Linked DNA regions of Homo sapiens. The protein of the gene in region 1 interacts with the protein of each later gene in a pairwise test. Each region holds a gene or a part of one and is shown in the gene's direction. Other genes may lie near its edges.

Region 1 (15,037 bases):
GCTCACCACAACCTCGGTCTCCTGGGTTCAAGCAATTCTCCTGCCTCAGCCTGAGTATTTGGGATTACAGGCATGAACCACCACCCCCGACTAATTTTGTATTTTTAGTAGAGACAGGTTTTCTCCATGTTGGTCAGGCTGGTCTCGAAATCTCGACCTCAGGTGATCCGCCCGCCTTGGCCTCCCAAAGTGCTGGGATTACAGGTGTGAGCCACCACACCCGGCCCAGGATTTCTGATCTGAACACTGCTCTTACTCTCAACATCCTATCATTCACTCTCCATGAAGAAGCTAAAATAATCTTTTTTTTTTTTTTTTGAGACGGAGTCTCACTCTGTCGCCCAGGCTGGAGTGCAGTGGCATAGTCTTGGCTCACTGCACTCCGCCTCCCGGGTTCACGCCATTCTCCTGCCTCAGCCTCCCAAGTAGCTGGGACTACAGGCGCCTGCCACCACACCTGGCTAATTTTTGTATTTTTAGTAGAGACGGGGTTTCACTGTGTTAGCCAGGATGGTCTCGATCTCCTGACCTTGTGATCCACCCACCTTGGCTTCCCAAAGTAAAATAATCTTTTAAAAGCATATCTGGAGGCTGGGCGCAGTGGCTCACGCCTGTAATCCCAGCCCTTTGAGAGGCCAAGGCAGGCAGATCACGAGGTCAGGAGATTGAGACCATCCTGGCTGACATGGTGAAACGCTACCTCTACGGTAGTCCCAGCTATTCGGAAGGCTGAGGCAGAAGAATGGCCTGAACCCGGGAGGCGGAGCTTGCAGTGAGCCGAGATCGCACCACTGCACTCCAGCCTGGGCGACAGAGAGACTCCATCTCCCAAAAAAAAAAAAAAAAAAAAGCATATCTGGTCATGTCTCTCAATCCCTTCAAGGCCTCCCCCAGCTGCCACTACCTACCATAAAGAAACCCCATGCCAGGCATGGTGGCTCATGCTGCTGCAATCTCAACACCTCAGGAGGGTGAAGTGGGAGGATTACTTGAGCCCAGGAGTTGGAGACCACCTGGGCAATATAGTGAGATCCCTATCTCTACAAAAAATTTAAAAATTAGGTAGATGTGGTGGCGTGTGCCTTTGGTCCCAGCTACTTGGAAGGCTGAGGCTGCGGTGCTTCACTGCAGCTTCACTCCACTCCAGCCTGGGTGACAGAACGAGACCCTGTCTCAAAAAAAAAAAAAAAAAAAAAAAAAGGGGGCTGGGCTAGTGGCTCACGCTTATAATCCCAGTACTTTGGGAGGCTGATGCGGGTGGATCACGAGGTCAGGAGATGGAGACCATTCTGGCTAACACAGTGAAACCCTGTCTCTACTAAAAATACAAAAAATTAGCCCGGCGTGGTGGCAGGCGCCTGTAGTCCCAGCTACTCAGGAGGCTGGGGCAGAAGCGCTTGAACCTGGGAGGCGGAAGTTGCAGTGAGCTGAGATCGTGCCACTGCACTCCAGCCTCAGTGACAAAGCGACACTTCATCTCAAAAAAAAAAAAAAAAAAGAAAAGAAAAGAAAAGAAATGCCAACCCCTTCAACAGCTACACAGGAGGTGCCCTTGCCAATTCTCCTCCTGCATCTGGACCACTCCGCTCCTTACCCACTAACTCACAGCTACACTGGCCCCCTTCTGGTCCTTGAACATGCCAAGCTTATTCCCACCACAGGACCTTTGCACTTGCTAATCCAGTTTCTCAATTGCTCTGCACGCCAATTTTCACATAGCTGGCTGCATCTTGTTTTTTCAGATCTCAGTTTATAAGTTGCTTCACCACCACAACACTTTTCCAAGTCCCCTCAATCACAGTCTGTTTTGTTAGTAACACTTCTCATTACTTGAAATGACACTGTCTGTTTACTTCTTTGTTGTATCTCCCGTAGTGTAAACCCTCAAGAGCAAGGACGTTGTCTGCATCTACCTTTGGGACTAGTACTAAACGGTCACTCAACGTTTGTTTGTTGAATGAATGAGTCCAGGCTCTAGGCCCTCAAAAGAACTCAGTACCTGGTAGTCATCTTCTTCATCCTCACTCTCATCTGAGTCTAGAGATTTCTTCTCCTTTTTGGGGTCACCTGCAGCCCCATCTCCACCTTCTTTTTGCTCCTCTTCTTCCTGTTTCAGAAATGGACAACCTGCAGAATCAAAAATGCAAAACAAATCCCCAAGACTGTGACCCTATCACCCCCCAGACTGTGGATCTTGAGAAATCAAGCCTCTGGAAGGCTGGAACCAAGGATGACAAGGGTCCTACTGTGACCCTGGCCCCCAGGGAATGGGACCTGGGCCAGACACAGGCAGCCTATGCACTTAGCACCACAGCTTAGAGGCCATTCCCATAGTCCAGGAAGCCCCTCACACAGCCACAGAAGGCCCTGCTCCCCTTCCTAACGCAGCCACCTCAGCAGCCAGGGTGAGAAGCTTGTTTCCTGGGGTCAGAAGGACTCAGCCACCAGGCTGAAAACCACCATCCTACTCAGCTCCCACCTGCCACATGCAGCTGCCAAATCATGCTGGCATTCCCAGGCGAGTCCTCTCCGCACTCCACTCCCACTCCATGGCAAGTCATCCCCCCGACCCACCCACACAGGTGACCTCCTGCACCAGCTCCCCAGAACAACACCTCGGAAGGCTGCTTCCCTCCACCTTTCTTGCCTTCCCACCAAAAATGTCCCTTATAGGAACCTCATGTCCCTTCACCTCTTGGCACCTGCCCACACATTCTCCATGTCCTGCTCAGCTGCTGGCTCCCCCAAGGACCCCTCCCAGACCCCACAGCTGGATGTGGCCTTTCCCTTCTTGAGACTCCTGGGGTACGTCACAGCTGTGTACCCATCTGGCCCTGACTGCTCCCTTAGGCCCTTGATCCAGGCATCAATCTAATGATATGGTAAGATGCAGATGCTGACGATGGGAATGTATTCTATTTCCTAACGGTGGCCTGGACAATGTACTATGGGAGCAGAGGAGAGGGAACTACTAAATCAGCTCTGGCTGGAGGTGAGGCATGAGTCACAGAGGAGGAGAGGCTAAACAACGTCTCCAGGGATGGAGAGCATGCTGATGCTGGGGGTGTGGGAAGGCAGGGCATATGTCATGTGCAGTGTGGCAAATCATCCTGTGTGGCTGCAGCAGACAAGCAGGGGTGCTGGGAGCTCGAGCTGTGAATGGACAGGTCCTGCAGGAGGGAGATCCTCCTGAAAGTAGGTGCACAAGACCAAGAACAGGGCCCCACTAAAGCAGCTGCTGCAGAGCAGCCACAGTTCTTTCTAACCCATCCAGGCAGAGGATGCCCACGCCCTGACTGTCATTGGTTGTTCTGAGACTCACACCTGGGGCTCACTGCCCGCCCGACCCCCACGTGCTGGCTTGTCCCTGCGAATGGGTAGTCCTTGCCTGGCCTCTCTATGAACCAAATTGGCAAAGCGCCACCCTGGGCCACTGGCGTGGCCTGGACAGGCACGTACTCACCCTGGCCTTCTGCTTCTCAGCCTGCAGCTGCGCGTCGATCTCCTCAGGGCTTGTATACTGCCTCGCCCGGCCTTTGTGGCCTCCCTTTCTTCCTGCAGAGACCCGCAGTTTAGGTGAGCGGAAGCAGCTGCCTTGACTGCTCTGACCCCCAGAGGGCTGTGTCCTGCTTGGAGTACTCTCATCGGAGGCCTCACCTACCCCTCACCCAGCACCACCCAAACCGACACCTCCGCCACCCTCATGTGTTCAAAGGCACGCAGGAAGCAACTCGTGACCATCTGATGCATCACCAAACTGTGTACTAAATGCTGGCTCCTACACAGAAGACCGGAGGGGAGAACATGGCGGACGGTGCACTGCAATGACTTGCTACATCCCCTGGTCCCTTACAATCCAAGCATAGTGGACTCAGATGCAACCACAGAAACATGTACCACTTACATCCCTGCCGTCACTATAAGGGCTTTTTACACGATGTTCTGTCACAGCCAGGGGCACTTTTTTTTTTTTTTTTTTGAGACGGAGTCTCGCTCTGTCACCCAAGCTGGAGTGCAGTGGCGCAATCTCGGCTCACCGCAACCTCCACCACCCTGGTTGAAGTGATTCTCCTGCCTCAGCCTCCCGAGTAGCTGGGACTACAGGCGTGCACCACTATGCCCAGCTTATTTATTTATTTTTAGTAGAGATGGGGTTTAACCATGTTGGTTGGCTAGAATGGTCTTGATCTCTTGACCTCGTGATCTGCCCACCTCAGCCTCCCAAAGTGCTGGGATTACAGGTGTGAGCCACCGCGCCCAGCCAGCCAGGGGCACAGTTGATCCTCGGAACAAACCTATGGTACAGGGGTGATAGCTGGTCCCATTTCATAGACCAGGAGACTTAGACCAAAGCAGACTGCGAAACACCACGAAGTTTAGAGTCCAACTCCCAGGTTCTACGCTTACTGGCTTGATGACTTTGGGCAGGTATTTAACCTCTCAGTCTCAGTTTCCTCATCTGTGTCCCTACCTTACAGGGTTGTCACAAAGATAGATGAATTAATCAATATACAGAAAGCTGCTGGAACAGTGCCTGCTACTGAATAAGCACTACAAAAATGTTCGCTAATATCCAGGCACAGTGGCTGATGCCTGTAATCCCAGCACTTTGGGAGGCCAAGGCGGGCAGATCACTTGAGGCCAGTTCAAGACCAGCCTGGTCAACATGGTGAAACCCCCTCACTACTAAAAATACAAAAATTAGCTGGGCATGGTGTCACATGTTTGTAATCCCAGCTACTTGGGAGGCTGAGAAAGGAGAATCGCTTGAACCCAGGAGGCAGAGGTTGCAGTAGCCGAGATTGAGCCACTGCACTCCAGCCTGGGCCACAGAGCGAGACTCCGTCTCAAAAAAATAAAAAAATCGCTGTTCGTTACTTTTCCCTCTAATCTAGTATTTGGTGGAAAAACAACAACAAAAGCACCACTGAGCACATAAGCAATTTACTGCAGATGTTGGAAACACAATAAAATACCTTGTGTTCACCTTAGTAGTATGGCAAAAAGAGAATACTTAAGGGAAAAAAAAGAAACCCAAACCTACAGGCAAAAACTTTGTGCTTAGACTAAGAAATGACTGGCAAAGTACAGATGAAAACAAACCTGACTACACAGTCTAAAAGTTAAAAATGTGACTAGCAGTTAAAGTGTCAGTTTTATAGTCTGACCCTCTTCAGCCAGAACACCAGGCTGACCCTTGCTTAAGCCATCAGCCAGTTTTAAAGCAAGGTGGCATCCCCCTCTGCTGGTCCCCAAGTATGCAAGGGTGGCTGTGGCCTCAACTTCCACACAGGAAGCTGAGGCCCACCTGATTTCCATAGTCTGTCTCTGTGAGCAGAGACTCTGTAATCAGCCAGAGTTGCTCTGCACTCCAGAGGCGGTAGCAGAGATACTGGCCTCCTCTGATTCCTTACAGCAGCTGCAAAGCCATAATTGGGCTGCTAAAGATCACACCACCCATTTTTAATGACTACCTAGGTTCCCAGGGGTGTCTAAGTCTATGCTTATTAAAGTCCTATTGTGAGAGAGCAAGTGTGCCAAGAAAAAAACCAACACCCTTTCTTGCTCTCTTAATACACCAGGCAACAGTAACAACTCAAAATTGATTACTATAGGCTCTCCTCTCATGCACTTGGCTATGGGACCCTGACCTTAGCTTGGTCCACAGTAATTTTATAGTAGACTCTTCAAGACTTTAAAAAACGATTTGCACTTAACATAATGGAAACAAGCGTTGGTCCTTTGCTCTTAGGGAGTTTGATACTTTTAACACCTTCACGGTTTTTTGTGGTTTTCAGATTAACCCAAGAAAATGTAAACCTTGTCTACCCCAAAAAGCTTTTCACAAGCCCAAAGACCATTTAGCTATGAATTCATATTTAAGGTTTTATCGTTGTAACCTCCAACCTTTACCCAAAGTATCCATTAAGTAAAACTTCGGAGGGAGGATGGCTCATTCAGCAACCTCCTTTTACAGATGAAGGGACTGGGGAACAATAGCAGAGAGACTTTTCCAGCCACAGAATAAATCAGTAGAGAGCTAGGTTTAAACACATTTAGCTCTGTAATGCCCAATTATCTCTGGAGTCAGGAAGCGATTTAGGTTTGAAAACGCTACAGGCAGATGTTTCTGTGGGTTGAGTGCATTAACCAATATAACACATGAGCTACCAACACAAATATATTTGTTCTGTGCCAGGAGGTGGCCAGGCACTTTATGAGCGCTATAATTTTACCACCCCGGCCCCAATTCAACAAGCTAAGGATTAGCCCAGTGTTTCAGATGAGGAAGAGGTTAACTTGTTCAGGGCCACAGAATTAGACGTGACATAGCTGGGATTCAAACTGGGGACTATCGATTCTAAAGGGGGAAACAGGATAGAGAACGGGCTAGAAGATAGAGGACGGGCTACAATGGACTGGGCAGTCATGAACCTACTTACAAGATCAAGAGCTGGCAAAGCCTTAAAAATAAGAATAGTTACTGCTTCACTGGGCACTTTTAACGACTGCCTGGCACTGTACTGCGCACTCCACGTGGATTACCTAGTTGAAGCCTCCCAACAGTACTAAGAGGTAGGTACAATCGTTATTCCCATTGGCAAATGAGAAAACGGAGACACAGGAGGTGGAGCGACTGGCTCAAAGGAACACACCGAGCCGCTACCGAACGGGGGAGTCGAAACCAGGTCTGGAAGGCTCATGGGCATCTCCTTAAGTCCTCCTAGGCAGGCCTGGCTGAACCGAAGCCAGAAAAAGCCCACGTTTTACGCGAGAGGCAGGCGGGCCCGGCACAAGCGCGGGACGCGGTGACTCAGTTCCTAGCCAGCCAAAGAGTGGGATAAATTCCAGAACCCCTAGACCCGGAGAAGCGCATCCTAGATCCGGCTTTCTAGGCCGGCGAGGACCCAGAGCTTCCGAAACTCCTCAGACCACTGACGGAGTGACTCTGGGACACCACAGTCCTCAGTTTCCCCATCGGGACAATTGGGCGTCGAGGCCCAGGCCTGGCTCTCAGCCGGTGCGGACAGCCTCCCTCTGCGCTGCTCTCAGAGACGCGCACGGGCTGAGGGGACAGCGGAAGCCGGACCTGGGCCGCCCCTCCAGGCCTGCGGGCCACCGGCGCCCGCCCCTCACCTCCTTTAGGCATTGCGGCTCCGGCGGCTGCGGCGGCGGCGGCGGCGCCTCGAACTGACACCGGAACCGGAAATAGCTTGGGCTCGACTTCTTCCTCCTGGGCCAGCCGCCGCCGCCGCTTCAGTGGCCGCAGTGGCCGCAAGGACCCGGACCTCAGGGAGGCCTCCGCACGAAGTCGGACCGTCCTGCGCGCCGCCTAAGTCCAGGCTTGCCCGTCTGCTGCCAGGCAACAACGCCCCTAGTCTCTCCGTTCGGGAAGACGCGTGGCCCTGCCTGCCACCCACCGGAAGTGAGGGCAAATGGCAACAGCGGCTCTGGAATTCTATACAGGCATTGCTGAGGACACCTAAGATGACGCAATCTCCGCGCGGGTAGGGCGGGGCTCCGCAAGGACCTCATGCCTTAGAGATCGCCTGAAGAGCGGAAGCCTTCTGTCGAGAAGCAGCTACCCAAGCTCCAGGAGCTTCCGGTATGTGTTTTCCCTCTGTTCTCGATTACCTTGGCAACGGCTGAGGCGGGAGACCGGTGGTCTGCACCGTCCTGGAGGGAGATATGAGTGGCTGGACTCTCAGCCAGCCACTGGGATGTGTTCGGGCTTTGGACCTTGAGGCCGGAGAGAGCTCCCGAGAGGAGGCGGCGCCACGTTCGTTCTTCTGAGGGGACGGTAGATTTGGGGGTTTTCCTCTAGGATTCTCGCGCCGTTTCCTCTGGTAGGAACGTCTTCTGTGTTCTGATTGTTTTTCTAAGCTGGGTTCAGATGCTGTCCTTTTTATGAGTTTTCCCTACAATCCTGCACTATCTTCCTTCGCTCCTCCTCGCCTCCTTCCCCTAGCGCCCCAATCTCTCTTACACCTCCCGGCACATCTTTCTTCTCGATCTGATTACCTCCTACGTCCTCTTTCTCCTCGATCTGGTTACCGCCTACCATTTTCACCTCCGAGAGGCCTCTTCTGACTTCCAGGCTGGATCAGGGCCCTCGAATTTCCCTGGGTCGTAGAAAAGCGATCATTCTCTTGTCACAGACTATGCGCCTTGGGGCCGAGACCAGAATTCACCTATTTTTAGCTTCAGCGTAGGGGAGACTAGTGCGAAGACCACTGATTTGGGAGTCAGGAGCCCTCCAGAGTCAGGTTTTGCAAATTCTCAGCTGTGTGACCCTGATTCTACCTTATAGAGTTTGATTCCTCCTCTATATGGTTGTTTTAGAGAGTTCATGAGAGGAGGCTCTGTGGGCGGGGGGGGGGTGGGTCTTTGTAAAGTGTCAGTACAGAAGGGAGTGACTGAATGAATTTGAGAGAGATGAATCTGTTATGCTGAAAGGTAAATACTTAACCTGGGTTCTCTCTGGCAGCAAGGAAATGCTGTGTGGTTTGAAAAACGCTTTGCTATTTAGATTGGGATCGGCCTCTTGTATGGGAACTACCTGACTTTATGTAATATGTTGTTTGGTGTGAAAGAGACCTTGGCAATCAGCCAATCCACTGCCCTCATTTTACAGAAGAAACAGGACCAGAGAGGGAAGGTGACCTGAAAGTCACAGAATAATTTTTTAGAGCTGAACAAGAATCCAAGCCTGCAACTGCAGAGACGAGAGATCTTTCTGCTGTCTATACTCTTGGAAAGCACATCCTAAGGTACTTTGATTTTACAGTCATCTTTCCCTTTTTATTTTATGTTTTGTTTTGTTTTGTTTGTTATTGAGACATGGTCTCACTCCGTCACTTAGGCTGGAGTGCAGTAGTGTGAACATGGCTAACTGAAGACTTTCAACCTCCTGGGCTCAAGTGATCCTCTTGCCTCAGCCTTCCGTGTAGCTCAGACCACAGGCACCCACCACCATGCTCAGTTAATTTTTTTGATTTTTTTTTTTTTTTGGTAGAGATAGGGTTTCACCTCATTGCTCAGACTGGTCTCAAATTCCTGGGCTCAAGTGATCCTCCCATCTCAGCCTCCCAAGGTGCTGGCCAAGACCAGAATTACAGGCATGAGCCACCGTGCCTGACCTTCCATCTTTGCCTTTTTAAATACTCACCCCCATGGCTCCCCGAGTCACAGCCCTCCTTATACTCTATTGTAATTGCTTTTTCTCTTGTCTGTCTCTTTGCTAAAATGTCACCTTCTAAGGGGCAAAGGCTTAACTTTTGTTCTGTGTTCCCAACATCCAGTATAGGGTTAAGCTTTTAGTTGAAGTTAGCTAATGACAACAGCAAATGTCTCTTAGGCACACATTATACACCAGGCATGATAGATACAATTCTAATGAAGTCTTTGCAATGACCACATAAGGTAGCTTCCATTATCCCCATTTTACAGATGAGGAAACAGAGGCTTAGGAAGGTTAAGTACCTTTCTGAAGATCACAGCGGGTAAGTAGCAGAGCCAGGATTTGAACACAGTCTGGGTGCTGAGCCCTGTCCCATAGCTGTGACCCTATGCTGACTCAAGGAAGTCAGCCTGTACCGAAATAATGGCTGGCAAAGGCCTTTGGGGATTTGAGACTCAGAAACCAATTCATTTTTTTCCCCCAGATCTTTGCAGATTATCCTGTGGAAGGAAAATGCCTAAAGTCAAAAGAAGCCGGAAAGCACCCCCAGATGGCTGGGAGTTGATTGAGCCAACACTGGATGAATTAGATCAAAAGATGAGAGAAGGTGAGTAGGGGAGTTCCTGTCTGGGTGGGCTGGGTCCAAGGGTCACAGGCTTAGATGCCCCCAGGGGACAGGCATAAATGCAAATATAAAAAGAGAGTGGTCTACTAACACTGACATGTTGTGTTTGCTTATGAACTTGGGGAAATACTGTAAGTGCCCGAAAATAAGATAACATTAATGAAAAGGTCCTCAGAAAAGGTGTTTTTTTTTGTTTTTGTTTTTGCCAACTCGAATATAAAAGGTTATGAAATATAGATCAAATAGTCTACCTATAGTTATTTACTATTTTGGTTAGATATATATTTAAAATCATACAAAATATATTTACTTGGAAGTGCTATTCCTTTTCAGTATCATCGATTAGTCTTTGCCGCATCTGTTTTCTGTCACTTCCTTGTAAATGGCGTGTGATCCTGCTTTGTGAACCCGTGTCCTATGCTGTCTTTGGAAATTTTATCTGAAGCCACAAGCATCTGTTGGCCTTATATGATCACAGTGTGGCCACTTACCAATTGACTTTTTTATTTTTATTTTTTGAGTTGGAGTCTTGCTCTGTCTTCCAGGCTGCAGTGCAGTGGCGTGATCTCGGCTCACTGCAACCTCTGCCTCCCGTGTTCAAGTGATTTTCCTGCCTCTCAGCCTCTCGAGTAATTTGGATTACAGGCATGCGCCACCATGCCCGGCTAATTTTTGTATTTTTAGTAGAGATGGGTTTCTCCATGTTGGCCAGGCTGGTCTCGAACTCCTGGCCTCAAGTGATCCACCCACCTCGGCCTCCCAAAGTGATGGGATTACAGGTATGAGCCACTACACCCAGCTGAAGTTACTTTTTAAAGTAGCTTTTGAAATGCTTGCTTGTAACTAACCTAATCATGGTTATTATGAGGTCGTACCTCCAGCAGTAATTACTAAATTAAATCAATGTTAAATTACTTTGCCCCTTTTTAAAAAAACTGTTCGTACCAGATAACTTCTATTAAATACTCAGTACTTGTTTTGCAGTTTAGATTTGGATGGGCCTATTGCAGTAATCACGGTCATTTTGGGCTGAGAGATGTCTTCCCGAAACAGCTCTTTATCAAAATAAAGGAAATGGGAGCATGCTGGAATAGAAGAGATTTTGCAAGTCCTTGAAAGTAAATTAACTTCATCTTCTAAAGGGTGACTTTTGAGGGAAGGAGGAACCCTACTTTGTGTTTAGATATTCTTTACCTCCAGACAGAAGTATTCTTTGTTCTGTTTTCTTTTTGTTTTTGTTTTGAGACAAGGTCTCACTTTGTTGCCCAGGCTGGAGTGCAGTGGTTCAATCACAGCTCACTGAAGCCTCCACCTCCCAGGCTCAGGTGTTCCTCCCACCTCAGTCTCCCAGGCAGCTGGGACTACAGGCATCCACTGCCACGCTTGGCTAAGTTTTCTTTTCTTTTTTTTCTTTTTTTTTTTTTTGAGACGGAGTCTCGCTCTGTCACCCAGGCTGGAGTGCAGTGGCGCGATCTCCGCTCACTGCAAGCTCCGCCTCCCAGGTCCACACCATTCTCCTGCCTCAGCCTCTGGAGTAGCTGGGACTACAGGCGCCCGCCACCATGCCCAGCTAATTTTTTTTTTTTTTTTGTATTTTTAGTAGAGACGGGGTTTCACCATGTTAGCCAGGATGGTCTCGATCGCCTGACCTTGTGATCCACCCGCCTCAGGCTCCCAAAGTGCTAGGATTACAAGCATGAGCCACCGCGCCCGACCAACGCTTGGCTAATTTTTTGTAGAGATGGGGGTGTGTTAGTCCATTTTCACGCTACTGATAGACATACCTGAGACTGGGCAATTTACGAAAGAACGAGATCTAATGGACTTACCGTTCCATGTGGTTGGAGAGGCCTCACCATCATGGCAGAGGCCAAGGAGGAGCAAGTCACGTCTTAACATGTGTACCTGCTGAATCTTTACTACCTGCTTTTCTGCTTGGATCACAGCATTCTGTTTGTTGAGCTGAATTGTAATTCCTAGGTAATAGAATGGCTTAAAAGCTGGAGACAGGGAGGGATAGTCTTCTTGACCACTCTTCGCCCTTCTGTTCTTCCCTAAAAACTGAGGAGGTCATAGACAAAGATGAACTTGTGACTGCTGAGAGAGAGAGAACTGCCTTGCGGCAAGTATGAGTGCCACCTGATCCTGCGTGTGTTGAAGGAGCAGCTTCTGCTGTGGCTACTTCCCTCAGAACCTGTAGACTGGTCTAGTTTATTTAGCTTTTCCTCAGCCCTAAAGGACTTTGGCTGGGAGATGAAATTAGAAGTGCCTTCAAGATGATTAGGATGCCCATCTGTGGGCCTAGAATTATCTTGATTAATTATTACGCTGTAGAAATAGATCTGAAAGCATAGGGACCAAGGTTGGTTTTTTGGCTTTTTTTTGTTTGTTTTGTTTTGTTTTTTTTTGAGACAGGGTCATCTGTCATCCAGGCTGGAGTGCAGTGGCACAATGTCAGCTAACTGCAACCTCTGCTTCCCAGGTTCAAGCACTTCTCGTGCCTCAGCCTCCCGAGTAACTGGGATTACAGGCATGTGCCACCATGCCCAGATAATTTTTGTATTTTCAGTAGAGACAGTGTTTTGCCCTGTTGGCCAGGGTGTTCTCGAACTCCTGACCTCAAGTGATCCACCCACCTCGGCCTCCAAAAGTGCTGGGATTACAGGCGTGAGCCACTGTGCCCAGCCGGGACCAACCTTTTAACAGAAGTTACCATTAAATGTCTTTAAAAATCTATGTTTTCTAATTCTGTAATTAAAAAGACTTTTTTTCTTGTCACATGGGTAATGTGCCAACGTTGTGACAAGGTTTGAGAGTGGCATGTCTCACACATGGATGTGAACACCCAAGCACACTCATGAATTACAAAAGGATCCAAAAATAGACATTTTTAATTTAAAACAATTATGTTTAAATTACTTAGCTTATTTTTTATTTTTTTATTTTTTTTTTTGAGACGGAATCTCACACTGTTGCCCACGCTGGAGTGCAGTGGTGCGATCTTGGCTCACTGCAACCTGTACCTCCCGAGTTCAGGCAATTCTCCTGCCTCAGCCTCTTGAGAAGCTGGGATTACAAGCGTGCACTACCACGCCCGGCTAATTTTTTAATTTTTAGTAGTGATGGGGTTTCACCACGTTGGTCAGGCTGATCTCGATCTCCTGACCTCGTGGTCCGCCCACCTTGGCCTCCCAAAATGCCCGGCGGCTTATTCTGTTTTTAAATAACAGCTTTATTGAGATATTAATCATATACTGTAAAAGTGAACCTGTTAAATTATCCAATTAAGGGGTTTTTAGTATATTCACAAAGTTGTACGACCATTGCCACAGTTAGTTTGATGTTTCAAGGTTCATCTGTGTTGTAGAATATATCAGTACTTACTTCATTCCCTTTTTTTTCTTTTTTTGAGACGGGAGTCTTGCTTTGTTGCCTAGGCTGGAGTGCAGTGGTGTGATCTCAGCTCACTGCATCCTCCGCCTCTGGGTTCAAACGATTCTCCCACCTCAGCCTCCCAAGTAGGTGGGATTACAGGCATGCGCCACCATGCCCTGCTAATTCTTTTGTATTTTTAGTAGAGATGGGGTTTCACCATGTTGACCAAGCTGGTCTCAGACTCCTGACCTCAAGTGACCTGCCCACCTCAGCCTCCCAAAGTGCTGGGATTACAGGTGTGAGCCACCGATTCCGGCCAGCCCTGTTTAACTTCTTGAGGAGCCACCTAACTCTTCTGCAGTGGCTCCACCATTTTACATTCCCACCAGGAACGTAGGAGAGTTCCAATTTCTCCACATCCTTCCCAACACTTGTTATTGTGCCATAATTTTGATTATAGTCATCTGTAGGGTCCAGCCCCACAGGGTCGGTGGGTTTCTCCCCGTGTGTGGAGACGAGAGAGCGTAGAAATAAAGACACAAGACAAAGAGATAAAAGACAGCTGAGCCTGGGAATCCCACCAAGACGCGGAGACCGGTAGTGGCCCCAAATGCCAGGCTGCACTGATATTTATTGGATACAAGACAAAGGGGCAGGATAAGCAGTGTGAACCATCTCCAATGATAGGTAAGGCCACATGGGTCACGTGTCCACTGGAAAGCGGGCCCTTGCCTGCCTGGCACCAAGGCAGAGAGAGAGAGACAGCTTATGCCATTATTTCTGCTTATCAGAGACTTTTAGTACTTTCACTAATTTGCTATTGTTATCTAAAAGGCAGAGCCAGGTGTACAGGATGGAACATGAAGGCGGACTAGGAGCGTGACCACCAAAGCACAGCATCACAGGGAGATAGTTAGGCCTCTGGATAACTGCGGGCGGGCCTGACTGATGTCAGGCCCTCCACAAGAGGTGGAGGAGTAGAGTCTTCTCTAAACTCCCCCGGGGAAAGGGAGATTCCCTTTCCCGGTCTGCTAAGTAGCGGGTGTTTTTCCTTGACACTAACGCTACTGCTAGACCAAGGTCCGCTTGGCAACGGGCATCTTCCCAGATGCTGGCGTTACCGCTAGACCAAGGAGCCCTCTGGTGGCCCTGTCCGGGCATAACAGAAGGCTTGCACTCGTTTTCTGGTCAGTTCTCACTATGTCCCCTCAGCTCCCATCTCTGTATAGCCTGGTGTTTCCTAGGTTATGATTGTCGAGTGAGGATTATTATAATATTGGAATAAAGAGTAATTGCTACAAACTAAGGATTAATGATATTCATATATAATCATATCTAAGATCTATATCTAGTATAACTATTCTTATTTTATTTATTTTATTATACTAGAACAGCTCGTGCCCTCGGTTTCTTGCCTCGGCACCTGGGTGGCTTGCCACCCACAGCCATCCTAGTGGGTATAAAGTGGTATTTATTCATTATCAGTAGTTACTTACAAAAAGAAAATCCTGCGCAGACCGACCCTATTCCCCCAAACACACTCTTTGTTTCTCCCCAGCTGAAACAGAACCGCATGAGGGAAAGAGGAAAGTGGAATCTCTGTGGCCCATCTTCAGGATCCACCACCAGAAAACCCGCTACATCTTCGACCTCTTTTACAAGCGGAAAGCCATCAGCAGAGGTAATTAGTCAGTCTCTCTTGGACTTTGAAGCTCGCGTCACTTTTGGAGTTACTGAACTAACCACAATCCTTATTCTCGCAACCTGTGCAAGTCATGGTTTTTCTTACCACGAAAATTAGGGGGAGCCAACGTTGGCTGAGTTTTGTGTGTGTGTTTGTTTTTTGTTTGTTTGTT
Region 2 (15,182 bases), on another chromosome or scaffold:
ACTGACTTTATGGGATATTTTGAAAAGATTAAAAGAACTAAATATGTAAAGCAGTTAGTACAGTTCCTATCATGGAAATCAATAATCATTAGTTCTGTTTTCATTTCTCTCCTCTGATTTTGTATTGACTTTCTGGTGTGGTTGAGAGACATTCTTAAGAAAATCAGAGTTCACAGTTTGCTGCATACTTCTGAGATGACTTAACCTTCTGAACGAATGTTCTCCTTTATGCCTTTGACTCAGAATGGTAACCTAGAGTTGTCTTTTTTTTTTTTAAGTCTAGGGGTACACTCTGGCCCTATGAGGACTTGTGAAGGGCAGGCATTTTGAACCACCAGGTGCTTGGGATGAGCAGAGATGATAACCAGAGAACTAATGTGGTCTCTGAAGGAAGGTTGCCCTATTGTCTCAAAAATGATGTTGGAATCATCAGAAGACTAGAATGAGGCAGGGTTCTCCTTAACTAAGTAGGGGGTTAGAGAGTCAGTGACTTCCAGCCAACAACAACAGGATAAGAAAGAACTCTAGCCTTGTGGAATAAGGCAGAATCACCATCTTGTTTCCCGGAAGGCCCAGAGACTGTGTCAATGAGGTTCCTGCTACTATTATGTTATTATTAGGATTAGTGTATGACCACCATGTGTGACTGTCAACTTGACTATTTTTCTTCTGTGTACATCATTTTTCTATTTATTTCCATTTTGTTCTCTCCTCGTATTTGGAAAAACATTTTGAAAATGTTAACTATCCAGTGGTTGCTAAGGGAAAATGGGAAATAGGCTTTTATTGATGTTCCAGTCAGATAGGAGCCAGACATGGTGGAAGCACAGAAACACAGAGAGGAAAATGAGACTTAGAGGGACAGAATATGGCCCTTCGTACACCTGTTGCCTCTCATCTCTGGGTAGGGGGGTTCTTTAGGGTCTGCCTTTCAGACATGCACTCATTCAACAAGTGTCTGTTTAGGGTTTCTCATGTGCCAGGTTAGGCACAAGGATGCAACAGTGAAGAAAACAGATATGGTCACTTCTCTAATGGAGCTTTGATCTATAGGCAGAGATAGACCATAATAGAATAAACACATAATTACATACTAAGATACACTCCATGAAGAAAACTATAAGAAGCCATGGAAGTGTGTAAGAAGGACTGGAGCTAGTCTATGGAGGGGGATGGAAGGAGTGAGTCAGGGAGGACTTTCCTGAGGAAGTGACATTTCACCTGAAAAATTACAGAATGAGTTAATTTAATAAAGGAAACCAGAGGCAACTTCTCAAACTAGTTGGCCCCTAATTGAAATTCATAATTTCAAGAAGCGAGTTGCATTTTTCCGAGGTAGGTCAATCTTTTCATTTCTTTTTCAAAACGAATTCAAATGTTGGTTCTTTGTGACAATTTTTTACATTAATAAATTTATTTTCATCTTTAACCACAGGGAATCTATTTACTTTTTGTTGCTTATGCAGAGTATATTATACTACTAGTAAAATGCTGGGATTCAGATCATTTGTTTGACCAATGATTTCCATTTGTGACCCACATGAGCTCATAAGATAGCTGAGATCTGAATGGTTGAATTTGACTGCAGTTTGCCTGAACTGAACTTCAAGCCAATGTGCACATCCACAAGGCTTCAGATTGCTGTAAACGCTTCTACACTTTACATTTTATATAATGCATAGAAGTTTTTATTTCTTCTCTTAAAAAAATACTCAACAAAGTCAGTTTGAAAGAATGAATGGCCCCAAACACAGTATTTCAGAAGTATTTGCTGCAGGTTTGGGCAAGCCCTGTGGCCTCAGAGGCTCTTGAACATTTGAAATTAGAGAGCTTCTTTAGTGACTGTGACCCATGACCACAGAGTTTTATTGAAGGGGACAGCATTTGGCGGGAATCATTCTAGGATGCTTGTTGGATTATCATTAGCATTGTTCAGTCTGTTATATTCAATTTGATTCAGTAAAAATATATTGGACACCCCCACTCTGTGTCAGAATGGGGATATGTGTTCTTATAATTATAACTATAATAATTATTTTAACAGTAACAGCAGCAATCATTTACTGAGAACTCACCACAGTGTCAGGCACTGTGCCAAGCATTTTACATAGATTATCTCATTTAATCCTCAGAACATCTCTGTGAAGTTGAATTAATATTCTTATGAAGAAAATGATGCTTGAAGAGATTAAGAAACATACCCAAGGCCACACCATAAGAATAGACGTTACTTATCAGACCAGGATTTGGACCCAGAGCCTAAGACTAAATATACTGTTTTCTTTTTACATTGGCATGTCATTTTTCAGATGAAGAAATCATAACTCAGAGATGCTAAGTGACTTCCCCAAGGTTAGATAGACATTTAGGATCCCTATATATTTTTCCTGAAAATAATAATATTTATGACTTGTTGAGAATTTCCTGTGTGCTTGGCATGTTACCTTAAGATCTTCTAACTCAGAGGTGCTCAACTTCGTCTCATGTTAGAAGACTCTGGGAATTAAAAAACAACAAAAAAAATCAATGCCTAGGCCCCATCCCAAACCAATTGAATCAGGGTCTCAGGGGATAGGACCTGGGGATGGAATATTTTTTAATTCCCAAGGTGATCCTTATACACAGAAAGGGTGGAAAATTCCTGGCCCACGTCTCACAACACCTTCACAGGTGAGAAAGCTGAGGCTCATGGAGGTGAATTGTCTTGCCTAAAGTTACAGCAAAGATGTAACAAAGTCAGGTTTTAACCACTGGTTTGATTCCTAAGCCCACATTTCTTTGGCCCTCCAATCTGTCATCTACATGACAAGTTTACATTCCCTCTAAGTCTCACCTGGATAACTTATCCAGGTGATGTTCATTGGCCTTTAAGCCTGTACCCAACATGCAGCTCCTCTCTTTGCTTCCTTCCCCCTCTGCATTGCTATTCTCTTCCCCTGCCCAAAATCCCACAAGCAGACTCAATCAGACTTCATGAGCAGGAGTGCATATGAATGAGTTGGGTTGATGCCCCTGCTTTATGGTGTGACTACACAGCTCAGGATAATGCCCACTACAGGCCTCCCAGTAGCTCCAGATCCTCCTGGCCATGTATCAACGTTCCTTCCTTGAATCAACCTGAGAAGACAGTGGCCCTCAGCTTGCAGCACAGCAAATTACTTTTCTGGGCAAAATAGGAAAATTTAAAAAATGTAAAAGGCCATAAGACAACATGGAAAAATCTTAAATGCATATTATTAAGTAAAAGAAGCCAATCTGAGAAGGCTACATAGTGTATGATTCCAACTATATGACATTCTGGAAAAGGCAAAACTATGGAGACAGTAAAAAGATCAGTGGTTGCAAGGGTTGGGGCTGCTGAGGTGGGCTAAATAGGTGGAACACAGAGGATTTTTAAGACAGTGAAGTTAGTCTGTATGATACCATAATGGTGGATACATGCCATTATATTTTTGTCCAAAGTCATAGAACGTACACCAAGAGTGAACTCAAATGTAAACTGTGGACTTTGGGTGATGATGATGTGTCAATGTAGGTTCATCAGTTGCAACAGATATACCACTCTGGTGGGGGATGTTGGTATTAAGGAGGCTATACCTGTGTGGGTGATAGGAGGTATGAAGGCAATTTCTGTACTTGCCTCTTAATTTTACTATGAACCTAAAACTACTATTTAAAAAGTCTTTCAAAAATGTAAAAAGCAGAGACTTGAAAAGTCTAATCAAACATCACAGGGAAAAAAGGCAAAATCATGAAAAAATGTGGTCAATCATTAGCAGAGAGGTTGAAAAGGCACGCTCCAATTGCTTTAAAAATTTACAAAACCCAGGTCTCCTTAAAAATAGTTTTGCAAACTACATTGAGAATTCCATGTAGTAATATGAAACATAAGTCCCACTGCTGCCACTGAACATGCTTCAGCTGGCTAAACCAAAGGAGCCTGACATTAACCCAAGGCTCTGCAAAACTCAACAGGAGAGTGGAGTGGAGATGCAGTTGCAAAGCTGCCCCAGATGTGTACATTTTCTGCTCCATTAAAATGACTTGGATGAAAGGCAAAGCACATTTGGCCCACAGAAAAAGAGAGTCGGGGGAGGGGTGAGACAGGACAGTCAGCGTCTTCGCAGGCCTCTGTCTCCCCAGACTTGCGTCCCCTCCAATCCTTCCCCACAATGTTTCTAGAGCAAACTGTCTAAAATTGAAATATAACCACAAGCCTTCCAGGGCTCCCCAGAGCCAAACTGCTTTGCCATAGTTCTCCATGTTCTCAACTCTATCATGTGTTTAATAACACCCACCTGAAGAATTTGGTGTGAAGTAATTGAGATCATGTATACACAGCGCCTGGCATGCATGATTTATAAGCTTTAGAGAAAAAATAGGTATTACAATTATCATCACTGAAACCAGGTCATATGAGGAGAGACAGGTGAAGGAAATGAAGATGTTTGGGCAGAAGACAAAGAGCTGGGAGACAGGATTCCAAGTTTCACCATGTCTGAAGGGCAGGCGTGAGAGTCTTGGTGAACCTAGTATGGCTGCTATAAGGTTAAAGATTCTACCTCAGTGCAAGTAAAAAAGACCTTTCTAACACTTGGTAATGTATAAAAGTTAAGGGGAGCTAGTAAGCTTCCTGGCATTAGAACTGTATAAAAGGTGTTCTAGATGCCCATTTGGCAGAAATATTGAAGAGGGGATTCAACAATGATTTGGTTAAACTTGAAGTTTGCAGTTGCCTCTTTAAGTCTGAAATCTGTATTTAAACTATCTTTGCTCACCAGTCAATGAATCATCAATATCTTGAGTATCTGGTATGTGTAAAGCCCAGGGCTATGGTCTCCAGGTCAAAGTACTGTTGCTCAGTTTTCAGTAGGGTGGAAGAGGCGCCCTATGGCACATAGTAGGTTTTCCATTAAGCTGTATCCATAGACTGAATGTGTGAGTCACACAGGAAGCAGGAACTGACGTCTTTCTGGTGCCGTCCAAGGGTATCTCTTTAAGCATCCCGTGCCAGTCATGACTACTCCAGAATCGATTCTGTGGATCTATGAAACATGTGTTTTGATCTGTGTTTACTCTGTCAGCATCCGGGTCCATCGTCTGTTCTTTTCCTCTTTCTGGGTTATCGGAAAATGGAACTGCCTCCTTATAGGAATGATTTACAGTGACATGGGTAGGGAATTTGAACCCCAGGGTGCAGTGATATTTAATATGTTAATGAATGTGTCTGTCTTACAAGTGGTAGAATCAATGTTCTTCTGCCCTTCGATCACTGGGAATGGGAAAGGCAGAGTTGGGATTCAGCATCAACCCTTAAAAAGGGGAACAGACTATGCAGAAGCTCTTTAGTTTAATTAGATCCCATTTGTCAATTTTGGCTTTTGTCGCCATTGCTTTTAGTGTTTTAGTCATGAAGTCTTTGCCCATGCCTATGTCCTGAATGGTATTACCTAGGTTTTCTTCTAGAGTTTTTATGGTTTTAGGTCTTACATTTAAGTGTTCAATCCATCTTGAGTTAATTTTTGTATAAGGTGTAAGGAGGGGGTCCAGTTTTAGTTTTGTGCATATGGCTAGCTAGTTTTCCTAACACTATTTATTAAACAGGGAATCCTTTCCCCAATGCTTGTTTTTGTCAGGTTTGTCAAACATCAGATGGTTGTAGATGTGTGGCATTATTTCTGAGGCCTCTGTTCTGTTCCATTGGTCTATATACCTGTTTTGGTACCAGTACTATGCTGTTTTGGCTACTGTAGCCTTCTAGTATGGTTTGAAGTCAGGTAGCATGATGCCTCAGTTTTGTTCTTTTTGCTTAGGATTGTGTTGGCTACATGGGCTCTTTTTTGGTTCCATATGAAATTTAAAGTAGTTTTTTCTAATTCCGTGAAGAAAGTTAATGGTAGCTTGATGGGGATAGCATTGAATCTATAAATTACTTTGGGCAATATGACCATTTTCACAATATTGATTCTTCCTATCCATGAGCATGGAATGTTTTTTCATTTGTTTGTGTCCTATTCTCTCTCATAAGTGGGAGGTGAACAATGAGAACACATAGATACGGGGAGGGGAACATCACATACCGGGGCCTGTAGGGGGGTGGGGGGCTGGGGGACTAGGGGAGGGATAGCATTAGGAGAAATACCTAATGTAGTTGATGAGTTGATGAGTGCAGCAAACCATCATGGCATGTGTATACCTATGTAACAAACCTGCATGTTTTGCACATGTATACCAGAGCTTAAAGTGTAATAATAATAATAATATTAATAATAATAAAGGCCGGGCGCGGTGGCTCACATCTGTAATCCCAGCACATTGGGAGGCCGAGGAGGGTGGATTGCCTGAGGTCAGGAATTTGAGACCAGCCTGACCAACATGGTGAAAACTCGTCTCTACTAAAAATACAAAAATTAGCCAGGCGTGGTGGCGAGCACCTGTAATCCCAGCTACTTGGGAGGCTGAGGCAGGAGAATCGCTTGAACCTGGGAGGTGGAAGTGGCAGTGAGCCGAGACCAGGCCATTGCACTCCAGCCTGGGCAACAAGAGCGAAACTCCGTCTCAAGAAAAAAAAAAAAAAAAAAAAAAAGAGAGGAACAGACTTTCAAGAAAAAATGTGCAAGAGGTTTGTTATTCATGCTCTCTTTATGTCCTTCTTTAATACATTTGTTTTATAAACATTTACTCCCCAGCCCTGTGCTAGGTACCTGGGATGCTAAAGTTACTCAGCCTTTGCCTCCCCTCAAAGAGCTCTTATTCTAGTGAGGGAAGATAAAAAGTGCTGGGACAAAATATTGTAGTAGAAAGAGATAGGCTATCCTTGAAAAGTGTGGGTGGTTGGGAAAGGCTTCACAAAGGCAATGACATTTGAGCTGATTTTCAGGGTAAGTTGAGGAAGGAAGAACTTCCCAGGATGAAGGCAGAAAAAGCACAAAAGCTTGGGACCTGCTAAAACATGCTATCTTTGGAAATGTCAAATAGTTTAGGTGTCTGGAGTGTACTGTGTCTGGGAAGGTAGTAAGAGATGAGATTGGTAATGTTTTGTGGTCACCCCCATTTAGATGCAGAGAGGAGGTTGGCCATTGGCTACTTGAAATCATTTTGGGAACATAGTCCGGAGCTTCAAGGACTTTTGTTAAATACGGCCAACTCTGCATGATCCATCTTGTGAATTATCAGAAGTCTTGCTGCACATTACTTCCCCTTGACCACCATAGGAATGTATTCTTAAAATAAAAACTCACTGAGGATCAGTCCAAAGAAATCATAATCATGACAGTAAATGTGCTGGAACAACTCAGAGTGGCTCCTTTTTTTTCCACAAGCTTGTGGGGCAAGATAAGACCAACAGCTGCATCAGGACAAGTGGTGGTCATTTTTGGCTGTACCACATAACCAGTGGGTTGGTTTAAAAAAATTTGTACTGACCTACACATTTGGATATGAGAGCTATATGTTGATGGGATTCACTTATATAACGCACTGTCTATTTCACAGTGAAATAAATATCTGCCTCATTGTCAGTGCAGCTGATGTGAAATATGAGCACAGTGCTTTGATTTTATAATGTTTGATGTTTTCTGATGATAAAGTAATAAAACATTGTGGAAAATAGTTACATACACACACACACACACAATGAATACAAGGAAAAACAAAATCATCTACCACTACTAAGAAGCTAAAAAAATCACTATTAACATTTTGGTGCACTTATTCTGTTTTTTTCTTACAGCTAAAGTTTATTAAGATGAATTTTTAAAAATATAACATTTAATTGAGTCCAACACCTCCATTAAGCATTCCTCTATGACAATACTTTTCTCATTATACTGTCATTACTTGCTTATACTTCTTTAATACTCCTAGACTAGATTGTAAAGGTTGTGAGGATGGGAAAGGTATGTTATTCATACAGTTACCTAATTTTGGCACAGGAACCCAAAACTGAGATTCAAGTTCTGGTACACTGACTTTGCAAGGCCCAAGAATCCAGGTGTTTATCTTTTCATTTCTATCACCAGCACCTGGCCCAGAATCTGGCAGGTGGTGTAAACTCAGTGAATATTGGTTGCTTGAATAAAGGAATGAATGAACAGATGGATGGATGGTTGGATGGATGGATGGATGGATGGATGGATGGATGGATGGATGGATGTGGGTTTTTATTTATTCTTCTTTACCCAAAATTCATTAACTCCCTGTCAAGTGCCAGGTCTGGCTAGGCAACAGAAATATAACTAGCCATATTTGATACGAGGCATCCCTGTGAAGGTACTGACCTCCTCTGATGTGGGATAGGGTTCCTATGAGTACAGAGCCCAATCAGCCCCCTTTGGCTGGTCCTCACGGCTTGTCTTGGAGGGGACCCAAGCCCCTCCAGGCTCTCTTTGGCAAGAGACAGAGCAAAGACCGCTATTCCATGGAGTACTATTCCTGTACTCTTCAAAGTGCTCCAGAAATCCCTAGCCTTGGGCCTGTGTTACCCAGAGCGCTCCTCAACTCCCTCCGCGATTCCAAGTTGTCCCTGCTCAGTGGTGGGCGTGCTGTGGAGAGGGTATCTCAATGGAGAAAGACTATAGAGGAGAGGGGCGCCACTGCTCCCTCAGATGAGAGCAGCCCTTGACAAACCTTCCACCTCCCCAGCCAGCTGGCACAACTGGAAATCTCAGATAAGCCCCAGTTCTGGTCAGAACTGGTTTGGCAGCTCTAGGGGAAATTTTCTGTCTGACTGACCCTTTCCACAGAGGGAGCTGGCAGTTTTGCAGAACAAAACAAACAAACAAACAAACAAAAAGAAAGAAAGCAAAGAAAAGGCGGGGCCAAACTAAGGGCTGGGAAAGGCGCGGGGAGGGTGCGGGGCTGGGGGCGCGGGTAGGGTGGCTACATTTAAAACACTCCAAACTTCTGCTGGCTTCCAAGTTTACACTTTGAGATTCAATCAAGATTGCCCCCACCCCTATCCCGCATTCACTCACTCATACACTTCTCTACTTGGCAATGCAGTTTTGTTGCAATGCAATTTGGCAGCGCGATTGTTGAAGCAATATAATCCTGCACGCAGCGCACCTTTTAATCAATGCATTTTTTTCCTGCAATGCTCTTGTTATTATTTTTATTGCAACTGAATCTCTGAACCCTTTTCCCTCCCCATTCGAATCGCGCTCCGGCTGTGATTGCTCGGGTCTGACTTTGCAAGTGGCAGTGCGCTTCCAAACCCCCCTCATCCGCCCCTCGTCCCCCTTTCCCCCCCTCCCTCCCTTTTCCGCGCCCAGGCGAAAGCAGCCGATTGGCAGAACGGTGCTTTCAGGAACAATAACAGTGGGGGGAGCCTGGGTCCTGGGGAGCCGCCCCCGCCCCCCCCAGCACCGTAGCGAGACTCGCGCCCCCCGCCGGATCCCCACCTCCGCGCCCGCCCCGCGGGCTGAGCTGCCCGACCGGGGCCCGCCCCCGGCGCCCACCATGTACGCCTTTGTGCGGTTCCTGGAGGACAACGTCTGCTACGCGCTGCCCGTGTCGTGCGTGCGCGACTTCAGCCCCCGCTCGCGGCTGGATTTTGACAACCAGAAGGTGTACGCCGTGTACCGGGGCCCGGAGGAATTGGGCGCCGGGCCCGAGAGCCCCCCGCGCGCCCCCCGCGACTGGGGCGCGCTGTTGCTCCACAAGGCCCAGATCCTGGCGCTGGCAGGTGAGCAAGCGGGCGGGGAGGGACGGTGGGACCCGGGCGGGGGCTGGGACCCCGGGAGGGGCCGGGGGCCCGGGCGGAGGGGACCGGGGGGAGCCACTGCTTGCTCCTTCCTGCCTCCTTCTCCCGTCCTCTGGGCATTTCATTTGGGAACGGGGTGTCTCTAAGAGGCCAGGCCAGTTAAAAAGACCGGATGGTCCCCTTTGTCTTCCCCGCTTCCCCGAAGCTCCCGCGCTGTCAGTCCGTCTTCATCTCTTCATCTGTGTCTGTCCTCCTCTTTCTGATTCTTTGTGTTTTCTTCGTTCCTTCACTTTCCATTTTTCTCCCTACCTGTTTGTACCGTCATTTCTCTCTCACCTTCTCTTTACCTCTCTCCCAGTTCCTTCCCTCTGTTCTTTTCTGTCAAGAATTAAGTTTCTCAAGCTGTCTGTCTCTCTCCCTTTAAAGGCTGTTGGTACCTCCTTGGAGTGAGGAGCAAGAAGGATATTGTCAGATCTTCTAGGTGGGAGTCCCTCCTCACAGAGGGAAGCTATGACATCCTTGTCCCATCCGGGCCAACATTGGACAGGATGAGGAGGCCATGAACCTCAGTGCACTGGGCTCCACACCACACTCTCCTGCCCCTCCCTGGCCAGGTGGCAGAGGTAAGGAGGTAGAGGCCCTAAGGCATCCCTCAGCCTCCACACCCCTTTCTGAATCTCCCAGAAGGCTCCCTGAATGAGAGAGTTGAGGGCCAGGAGAGAGTTTCTGGGTCAGAATAACACTGGACCTCTCATCCCTGCCCTGCCAGGGCCCTGAGAGATGGGCTAAGGCAGCTAGTCTCATCTCCATTTCGTAGATGAGGGTACTGAGGTTCAGTTGGTGATAGGGAAAGAAACCAGCCCTTTATCCTCCTATGCTCCAGTTCTTCCTGCCATGCTGAGACACCTTTTCCTTTGTAAAGAGAAGACAGCTGGCCCTCTTTCCCAGCTAGTTCCAGAAAGTTTGAGTCTAGACAAGCAAGGAAGGGGGAAGTATCATCTCCGTTTTGGGGAGCAGCCTTTTTAGCTCCTGCTGGTAAGGAGAATGAACCTTAAAGTGGGCAAATAGTGTTCCTGCCTTCTACCAGAAAGAACACGAAGGGTTAGTGACTGAATGAAGATGTTTTGTAATTTTGAGACCTTCTCTATTTTTTTCAAGTTCCTTTGCTTCCTCACATTTAGCCTAAAAGATGAACCCAACATTCTCTCAACCCATAGAGACTTGCCCAGGGTCTCATGGCAAGTTAGCTCAGTCTCACAACTCATGTTGCCTCTGAAAAATCGGTTTGCAGAAGTTGAAGAGTGGAAGAACTGGAAACTGACCAGCAGCACTTGGACCCTTTTTGACAGGCTCTATCCATACCACCTCCCTGATAAGCCCTGGCACACCGAAGTGTAGGCCCACCCACTGCCAGACACCTAGGGCCAAAGAAACTGAGGGAGGGGAAGCAGATTTTAGAAAAGGGAACCATTCATAGCTGATTAGGTTTTATTTTGTTTGCTTACTTGCCTTTAATTACCTGAGGGAAAGGATTAGGAATTTATTTCCCAAGACGATAGGCTTGAGGAAGTTATAACTAGGTTGTAACCTTAGCTTCCCTTTTGCTAGAAGAAAATGCATGCATGCTTCTTGACGATTGTATTGTACTCCTAGATCTGGAAGGGTCCTAGGAGAGTAGAAGTGATGTGTTAAAGAGAGTCAGTGATAAGTTTCTTAGTGTGTAATGGCTGTTTTCCTCTCTTGGAGATTGTTTCATTCATCTACTCATTCATTCAGCAAACATACATATACACTGTGCTTGACTCTTCAGGCACTGCAGAGAGGCCACTTAGGCAGATGGCAGCTCCCACCAGCTCTGATTTTGAAATCGACACAAGTCCTCAGAAGCAAGATACATGTAGCTGTTGGTTTGAGAACCATGAATTTTGAACCTGTAGACTGTTCATCCTCCAAGTTAGAATGTTGATAAATCTGTATGGTTATTTAAAAAACCCAAGCATCATTTGGAAACTGGCAGAGTAGGTTCAAAGAAGTGTGCCAGTTTGAATTAGTTGAAAAACACTTCCCCTTACCTCTCTTCAGTTTTTTTCTTGGGAGGAGAAAGGGGAAAAAAAGACAACAACTTGAAGTTGGCCAAACCACATTTTGAATTTTGATCTCCTGGGTACCCACTGCCCTGCATAGAGACCTGATCGAAGGGCCAGGGTGAGTTCGGGAATTCATTACCCTGGAATAACTCCTATGTATCTTCAAACCCCTTCCTGACTTAAACTTGGTGGCTCTGAGAATTGCTTACAGTGACTTCAGAGAGCTCATCTGGCATCTCCTATATGTAAATACCACTGTGCTATGGCACCAGGTGTGAGGAGGAATCCCCTCAAGTGGGAAGCAGAGGTGGCTTTATGTTTGTGGATTAGCTATTAATTGATTAATTAATCTCTCTGACACAAATAGAATGGTTTCCAAGGTAGTTTCAGCACAGCTTTCTGGCTTTTGGTGAGAAGTATGTTGCTATACTGAGTGTTGGCCCAAGCCAGCCCAGAGCTGTCTTGAAGTATACTTCTTTTTATACTCAGGAAATGTCAAAGCCGACTGCTGTGGGACTTTACATTTTACTGCCCATAGTAGGTGGTTTATACCACTACTTATCAAATTACAATCCCAGTTCAAGGAAAAACAAAACTCCTTCTTTCCTGATAGTCTTGCTATATGCCTACACATTATCTCTGTTAGTCCTCTAAGTGACATTTTGGTAGGTATTGCTGTGGTTAGTATTTCCATTTCATAGATGAGGACACCGAAGCTCAGAGACTTGCCTACAGCCACACAGCTAATAAATGGCAAGGCTGGAATTGGAACACAGGTCTTCCAGTGCCAGGCCCCCACTTGGCAGTCTCCTTTGTAAAGTAGCCGATGTTCCCATCAGCTACACAGCATGATTTGGAAGGAGTGAAAGGAAATGGAAAAACTGTCCATGAAGCTTACAGCTCAAGGCAAGTTTTCAAGCCAGAGTATAATTTTAGTTTCTGAGTTTTCAAGCCCATTCTGCTCTTTCTCCATTACCATCCTCCCTCTTACAGAGCACACACAGCTGTCCCCCACCCGCCTATCTCTTCAGTTGGCATTTGCTTGAATAAATCTTCACTAAGGCTGTCCCTCTTGGAGGGTCCACATAACTCAAAGTTTGACTCACCTTTGACCTCTGTTCTCTCTTTACTCTCATTTATTTGCCAAGCAGGTTGTGAAAGTGAGAACTACTCATTTGGAGAGCTCACCATCATCTAACTGCAATCCAGCCTGCTACTGGGGCTCATAGTGTTGAATTTTATTTTTTTTTTAGGAGGCTCAAACTGGTTTCTCTGTGCCTAGAGCCCTAAAATTTTAAGTTGTTCTATCTAGGCACCTGTGCTCTGTTACTGTTGTTTGAGTGTGCTGAATTTTTTTGTTTCAGATGTCTCCTTACTGCTTTCTGTATGCCAGGCCCAGTGCTGTATTAAGTGAATATACCAGTGCACCTATGCATCTCAGGTACTGTGATTGAAATGACAGCACGACCCAGGGGTGGCAGGCGTTGACTTTTCATGTCCTGCTATGTAGGATTTCTGTGGGGGAGGGAGTGATGGAAAAGAAATGGGTATCATCCTCAGGGAGTGTGTAATTTGGGGGCCTCAAAGTAAGTGCTAAATAAAGGTAGAAGCCAGGCACTGGGGAAACACAGAGAATGGACCAATTCAAGGTGGGCTTTGCAGTTTATCTTTTAAGTTTTTCTTTTCCAGCTCCACCATCACTGCCTGCATTCAGGTCAGCATCAGCTCTTATCTAAACTATTGAAGCAGTCTTCTAATTGATTACCATGTCTCTGATCTATTTTCCCAATTGCTTTTAGAATAATCTTCTAAAACACAGTCTTAGTTGACTGCTCTCATTAGAACCTTCTGTAGCTCCCTATTGCCTACTGAAAAAAGTTTTAGTTTCTTAGCCTGGCATTCATAGCCCTCCTTAGACCAGCTCTATCCCAGCCCCACCTTACTTCTCCAGCCTCACTCTCTCTTCCCCTTTCCCTGAGACCTATGGTATTTTTTACTCTTCTGTGAACACACTCTCTCGCACTCCTTTGAGCCAGCCAAGGTGGATTAATCATTGTCTGATATGGGGCCTCTGCCTGCAAGGAGCTCACCTACAGGTGGGGAAGGTAGACATGTGACAGAAGTTTGTGGTCCAGCCCCCCTCCACCTGTGATAAAGGAGTGGACAAAGTACATTTGGAGACCTTGCTTCAGTGGTAGTCCCTATTCCTCCCTCTGCGCCCAAGAGAGACTCTCTCCCTCCTCAGAACTCTCTTTTCACTTTGGTTTTGCCTTGCTTATGGATTGTAGCATTTTATGTCTTGTTTTTATTAGTCATGAATGTGCCTCTCTTCCTGCCTGACAGGGAACTCCTCTAGGACAGGGGCCTGGCTTCCTTGTGCCTGCATCCTCAGTGCCCAGCATATAGTCTGCACTGGTGTGCCCATGTTGAACTCATCAACTTTGGGAAGACAGGTGCATTTTTGTGCTTGAGGAGAGGGAAATAGGGGAGATAGGAACCTCTGCAGCAGCAGCTTGTTTTTCAGAACAGAAACCTGCCGTAGGATTTTAAGTTTTCATTCAACTTTGTTCATCTGGAAGAAGTCAACATTCTTTATCACTCCCTCAACTAGCTAGAAGAAACCCCACACTTGGGGGAAATAGCTTCCAAAGCCATGTTCTTATTGCTTTGGTAATTTTAGCTCATTCAGGGCTCAGGTCCCAGCTTGGCATTGTTAGTCCAAATAGATCATTTGCTCCAGAAATGCTTTGGAACTTCTACAAAGTTAGCAGTGAAGCAGAGGACTAGCCGATTTCATATGCAAAGATTGTTGCGTGTCATCAGTGGGAAACTGCCAACAAAAGGATTTATTTTCTTGAAAAAAGTGAGTGAAAACTTTTAATTTAGGTTTTGACATGTTTTGCTGATATACATTGGAGCAAAGATTGGAAATTGCCTGCTGTCATCTGTTGCGGATTCTACTGGGATGTTAACCATTGAGGGTTCAGTCTAATGTGATTTCTCATGTTCAACAACCACCAATTTTTACAGCTAAATAGTATGTGCTACAGAGTGCTTCAGAGTTCTGGTTCATAAGCAGAAATAAAAAATTGTCCCAGGCAAGTTGCTTTTTATGTGGTGTTTTGCTGTTCAAGAGCACACCAGTTTTTATTTTTAAAAGCACATCCAGAAAGCAGAATTCAGATTGGGGTCTTTGACACCAAGACCAATTCTCTTTCTAGTGTGCCTACCTGCTTTGTCTTATAAGCTCCTTAGGGACAGAAGTTGTGTGTACTCTTTCTACCAGAAGAACATTCGTAATCTGGAGACATTTTCTCTGGTTGATTTAAGTTCCACAAGTATTGAGTTATACTAGGTGGTCAGTCTTATACTCCAGGGAAATGCAGGAAGAG

What was found.
Region 2: the proteins of BUD31 (region 1) and BEND5 interact in binary tests that used the Homo sapiens proteins (3 or more experiments, as listed by UniProt).

Annotation. Positions count from the first base shown.
Region 1 is NC_000007.14:99,401,399-99,416,435, forward strand, and holds the start of BUD31 (protein BUD31 homolog), read left to right. Parts: upstream 1-7,570; 5' UTR 7,571-7,847; exon of another isoform or gene 7,848-7,866; intron 7,867-8,635; 5' UTR 8,636-8,771; intron 8,772-9,665; 5' UTR 9,666-9,694; coding exon 9,695-9,788; intron 9,789-10,546; exon of another isoform or gene 10,547-10,585; intron 10,586-10,790; exon of another isoform or gene 10,791-10,897; intron 10,898-12,579; exon of another isoform or gene 12,580-12,680; intron 12,681-14,739; coding exon 14,740-14,862; intron 14,863-15,037. Other genes in the region: PDAP1 (28 kDa heat- and acid-stable phosphoprotein), read right to left, coding at 2,000-2,107, 3,464-3,555, 7,138-7,150. UniProt on the Homo sapiens protein: Involved in the pre-mRNA splicing process. May play a role as regulator of AR transcriptional activity; may increase AR transcriptional activity.
Region 2 is NC_000001.11:48,771,109-48,786,290, reverse strand, and holds the start of BEND5 (BEN domain-containing protein 5), read left to right. Parts: upstream 1-9,399; 5' UTR 9,400-9,459; coding exon 9,460-9,685; intron 9,686-10,129; exon of another isoform or gene 10,130-10,262; coding exon of another isoform or gene 10,263-10,326; intron 10,327-10,360; exon of another isoform or gene 10,361-13,231; intron 13,232-15,182. UniProt on the Homo sapiens protein: Acts as a transcriptional repressor.